Regions from separate parts of the Homo sapiens genome. Here region 1 is linked to region 2. The links come from fine-mapping of genetic effects on gene expression. Tissue or cell type: monocytes after LPS. Region 2 holds a variant in brackets; the other region holds the start of a gene. All regions are shown on one strand. Distances are from middle to middle.

Region 1 (2,759 bases), 42 kb before region 2:
CTCTCCCAAGCAAAAGGGAAAAGAAGACAGAGGGGGGTTGGGGATTGTGTCAGGTAGTGAGCTGTTTCCTGGAGAAGCCTGCGTCTGGTTCCAGAGGGAAGTGAGTTTCTAAGAGAAGGCATCTGTAGGAATTTTGCCCATCAGCCGTGACACCAGCACTGCTGTTGGAGGGATGAACAGCTCATGACAAAGTCCTGTCTCCTCTCTCCCCTTCCCCGTGTCTGTGCAATATCATTAGAACTGGCAGACCCTTATTAAAAACAGTTGGCCACTGAGAGGCTATATCCTGTGTGAGACAGAAGCCCAGATGGTAGGTGGTCTTACTTTTGGGGTGGGGTGTTCCAGGTGGTAACAGCCTCGAGGGCGGGAGGACCATGCCGCCTGTTTCTTGGCATCCGTAGGTGGTTCCTGCCTCCTTCCCTTTGGCAGGTGTGTGGGAAGGATTGAGTGTGAAGGGATGCTCACAAGCACTGAGAAGATGGCCTGGCACTTGTGAAATGACAGAGGTGGCCTGGGAGGTGTCCCGGACCCTGGATTTAATGTGCAACACATGGTTCAGTCGGTCCCAATGTTGGGACTGTAGAGAACGTACCAGAAGCCTCACAGATACTCAAGGAGTCGTGATTATTAGGACTGGGCTGAGTTAGCTCTATCTAGTACTTTGTAATTTTAAAGACCTACTCAAGCAATATTACAATATAAACGGGATCACATGGACTACCTTTCTACTTCAAACAACTCCAGAGGCATCCTGCTGTGGATAACAGAAGCTGATTCTCTTTCTCTCTCCGCCTCCTCCTCGTCTTCCACCTCCCTCATAAAGCATCCCCCAGCACTGACAGGGTACCGTCATAATGATGGTTATATTGAACTATGTGAGTGCCTACTCTTTGCTAACCAAACTAAATTATTAGTTGCATCATTTCATCTCAACTTCACACAGTTATTATATTTTTTCCTTTTTCTTTTATTATGGCAAAGTCTAGTTAATGTAAACCTTGCCATTTTAACTTTTTTAAAGTGAATATTTCAGTGGCATTGGGTCCATTCGCATTATCGCACCACCATCGCCACCGTCCAATTTCAAAACTGTTTCCATCCTGCAGAACTGGCACTTAGTATTCATTACACGACCCCCTCCTGCAGCCACGCTGGGAGCTGACCCTCTCCACCCATGCTTCGTGCACTCAGGCGCTCATCCAGGGATCATCCTGTACCTCAGACTCTGCCAAGAACTGTCCGGCCCCAGGGCCTTTGCAAGCGCAGGTCGCACGGCCTGGGATGCCCTCTCCCAGCTCACCACATGGCTGGCTCTTTCCCATTCATTGGCCTCAGCCCAGTGGCCTCCTTCTCGTCAGAGAGGCCGCCCCTGCCTGCCCTGGCTGGCCGGCCCCTCCCCCACAATGACTCTATGACATCATCGTGTTCCTTCTCCTCGGAGCCCTCAGACCCTCTGAAATCCTCTGGTCTGTGTTTTGTTTCCTCCGTCTCTATCTCTCTCCCCACTAGAAGGCAGGTCTCAGGAGGGCAAGGACCCGGCCTGTCCAGCTTCCAGCCGTAGCCCCAGGGCCGGGTGTGCAGTAGATACTCAACAAGCCTTCTTTCCTCCCACCAGCCTTTCCTCCACAAGGGGAGACAGGACTTGGGGGTGTTTTTGGGGGTCTAAACAACACAAAGGAAAGAGACGCTGAAGTGGGTGAGCTGGCCTCGCACTGCACTTCCTGCTGGAGTTCAAAGTCAGCCCTGCCCCTGGAACTGCCATGGCCAGTTTAGATTGTTCCAGAATCCCGCTGCAGGCTGTTCAAAAGGCTCCCAGCTGCTATCAGGAAATAGCTCAGGAAGGTCCCTGTTAAACACCACCCCCATCCCCGTAACCCTGAGCAGCCCTCCGCCACCTGCTATTTTCTATCTCTGAGAATTTGCTGACATTAGGCAAGTCATGTCTGTGGAATTATACAATGTTTGTCCTTTTATGAGTGGTTTGTTTCACTCGGCACCATATCCTCAAGGCTCACTCATGTCATAGCAGGTGTCAGAACTTCCTTCCTTTTTAAGGCTGAATAATATTCCACTGTATGGATGGACCACGTTTTGTTTATCCATTCTCCTGTCAATGAACATTTTCGTTGCTCTCAGCATTTGGCTGTTAGGAATAGCGCTCTGAGGACATTTGTGCACACGTGTTTGCATGGATTTAATTGTTTTTCCTTTTCTTGCCTGTTCTTGGGTGTCGTGGCCAAGAAGCCACTGCCGAGTCCAACATTGTGAAGCTTTCCCCCTATGTTTTCTTCTAAGAGTTTTGTAGTTTTTTTACATTTAGTTATTATGGTAATGCCTTTGATCCTTTTTGAGTTAATTTTTTGTATCTGGTGTAAGAGAAGGGCTCAACTTCATTCTTCTGCGTGTGGTATTTGGTTTTCCAAATACCATTTTTTGAAAAGACTGCCCTTTCCCCACTGAAGGGTCTTGGCTCAAGACACTTGAATGTCAAATAAGTCAAAGGGCTTCTTTCTGGGCTCTGTGTTCTGTCCCATTGGTCTATCTGTCTGTATGTAGGTCAGGACCACAGTGTTTTGATTGTCATAGTTTTCTAGTAACTTTTGAAATCAGAAAGTGTATGACTTCCAACTTCCTGGTTTGTATTTTTACATTTTATATTTTGTCCCCATTTTACAGATGAGACAAAGGAAGCTCAGAGAGGGGAACTGACTTCCGAGGTCACAGAACAAGCAAGGGTGGGACAGGATTTGAACCCAGGC
Region 2 (2,759 bases):
CACGGAACAGAGGAGGTGCCCAGTGAGTGTCTAATAATTGAAGGTAAGTGATGCATCTTAAACCAACACAGAGTCTTCGACATTGCCCAGCTCACAGAAAGACGCATCACATCCAGAGAAGGGTGGCAGTGCCAGTCCAATGAGCCCATGGCCAGCAAGGTGGGAGATGTCCACGTGGCCCCAGGCCCCAGCTGGGGGCTTGGATTAGGGGGAATCTCAGGGAGCAGGGCTGCGCCTCTTAGAAGTCAGGCACAGCTAGGTCTCAGTCGCACCTGGCCACTTCCACCAGGTGTCTGACCTTGACCTTGAACAGGACTGGCCAGCATCTGAGACCTCGAGCGAGCAAACAGCTTGAGAAAACATCAGAGGTGTTACTTCAGTAAGCAGCACCACTGTCAGCCCTAAACGGGAAAACAAGGGAGAAACATGCTCGGGGCGCCTCCTGGGAGCTCGGGGCACCTCCTGCGACGTCACAGCACCCAGAGACGTAGGTTCCGGTTTCATCTTCACACAACTAGAGCCCCTTGTTTGAGCTCCATTTTATAAACAAGGAAACCGAAGCTTAGAAGGTGAAATTACTTTTCCAAGTTGGAATAATCAGACGGGTTTCCTGAGGCCTCTGGGCACCCATAATAACAATTTATTGATCAAAATTGAATGAATGAATAAATGAATGAATAAATGAATTAGTGATAAATCCCAAAACAAACCAAAAAAAGGTAACAACTAGAAGAAAAAGATATGATATGAAAAGTTAATTGATTATAATCTATGGTACTATACATTAGGTTGTATAGCTTTCACAACTTCACAAAAACTTATTTTTGATTCCTAACAAATAAAAAATACTAACACATATGGTAATAATATTCTATAATAACATTTTAATTAATGTTATTAATAAAAATATTAACATATTTTTAATTAAATAATAACACAGACACATAGAAATCACTTCCTGGCTTAACACATACTTGGCTGAATTCCTTGGTCCACGTATCACCCTGAATCTGAAACATCCTTTCTGCACCAGCCATTGACCCAGGAACTGAAACAGAGCATTGAACCTCACTAACAAGTGTGTGCTTACAATTTCTTCACCCAAAAAGTATTTCCACTTATCAAGAGATGGCATTTCCTCCAGGGACGTAAGCATCCTGTGTGAGGC[G/A]AGAGTGACTCAGAGGGAGGGCCTGGAGAACAGCTCCCAGCAGCCCACACATGGTGACTGCGTGAGCGGCCTGTGGCCACCACAATAGTTACCACAAATTGGGTGGCAAAAGACAAGAGAAATGTATTCCCCCCAGTTCTGGGGGCCAGAAGTCTGAAGTCAAGTCATCCGCAGAGCCCTGCTCCCTCTGAAGCCTCCAGCGGGGATCCTTCCTGCCTCTTCCAACTCCTGGTGGCCCCAGGCATTCCCTGGCTTGTGGATGCATCACTCCCATCTCTGCTTCCGTTTTCATGTGGCCTCTCCTCTATGTGTGTCTGTGTCTTCTCTTCTGCTTCTTATGAGGACACCTGTCATCGGCTTTACAACCCACCGTAAGTTCAAGACGATCTCATCTCAAGATCCTTATCTTAATTATGTCTATGAAGATTCTATTTCCAAATAAGTTCATATTCGTGCGGTCTGGAAGATTAGAATGTGGACACATCTTTTTCAGGGACACAATTCACCCCACTGCAGTGACCACAGCCGGATCAGACTCGTTCACCCACTTCAGTGACCACAGATGGATCAGACTCGTTCGCTCCCTGCAGTGACCACGGCCGGATCAGACTTGTTCCCTACAAAGGGGATTTCTCATGAGAGCCAGTCACACGAGGGCAGAGACTTTGGTTATCCTCGCCCTGGTAGCTTCAGCATCTGCGCTGCATGTGGTAGGAGGCTTGATCACTTCTGAACAAACACACCAATGAGTAAATGAACGAGCGGCCTCACAGAGCAGCGATGGGGACTTTCTGATGAAGACCAGGTTTTCAGACGGCGGGAGGCCTTGGCTTTGAGGTGTCAGTGGGTGCAATGGTTAATATGGCACTGATTTTAGCGAGTGCCGACTGCGCAATGCCATATCTTTTAAAGGGCACTATAGAATCCCAGAGTTATTGAGTAGGAAGGAAGCCTGGACACTCCTCAGTCCAACTTCCTCACCTGCAAGGTGACAAAACTGAAGCCAGAGAGGAGGAAGGATTCACCCAGGTCCCCCAGAGTCAGCAGCTAAGGAGAGTATAGAAACCAGGCTTCTGACTTCCCAGCCAGTGCTCCACTGAGACCCAGCTCCCCTCCCTCTATCATCATCTCCATCATCCTAATCTCAGCCACGACTCCCATGACCTTGGACTCTTCCTGCTTGGCTCTATGTTCAGCATCTCACATACATCAACTCATTTAATTCTCTCAACAACCCAGTGCTTTACATAGAATCCTTATCTCCATTCTACAGGTGGCACAACTGAGGCTCTCAGATAATTTCCCAAAGGTCTGACAGCTAGAAAATCATGTAATCTGATGCTTAAGCCAGTGCTCCAAGCCAGAGGTGAGCAAACCATAGTCTGTAGGACAAATCTGGCCCATCACCTGTGACCACAGCCAGATTCTGCCACAAAAACAGGAGAATTCTCCGAGAACACATCCAGTTTAATTACAGCACAGTCACACTCGTTATTCAAAGCATCATCTCCGGCTTTCTTCCCTGCTGCAATGGCAAAGCTGAGTAATTGAGAGAGACAGTAGGAACTGAACAGCCTGAAATACTTGTCAT

Alleles and levels. Positions count from the first base shown, and alleles are read on the strand shown. Sizes are in standard deviations (SD) of each study's normalised expression.
With allele G in place of A in region 2, the expression in monocytes after LPS of the gene that starts at base 1,405 in region 1 is lower (large effect, 0.83 SD a copy in Quach 2016).

Evidence for each region. PIP is the estimated chance that this variant, and not a neighbour inherited with it, causes the effect. A credible set is the group of variants that fine-mapping cannot tell apart.
Region 1: it holds the start of LINC00917, and the variant in region 2 is the best candidate, but not a certain one, in a credible set for the expression of LINC00917 in monocytes after LPS (Quach 2016, PIP 0.75).

Annotation. Positions count from the first base shown.
Region 1 is chr16:86,344,275-86,347,033 of GRCh38, forward strand. It overlaps LINC00917 (long intergenic non-protein coding RNA 917), which reads right to left and starts at 1,405. Exons shown (of 7, transcript NR_024406.1): 1 at 1,218-1,405.
Region 2 is chr16:86,386,496-86,389,254 of GRCh38, forward strand. No RefSeq gene overlaps it. Among named protein-coding and RNA genes, the nearest start is that of LINC00917, 42 kb to the left of the region's middle. The variant G/A (reference allele first, on the strand shown) is at 1,169.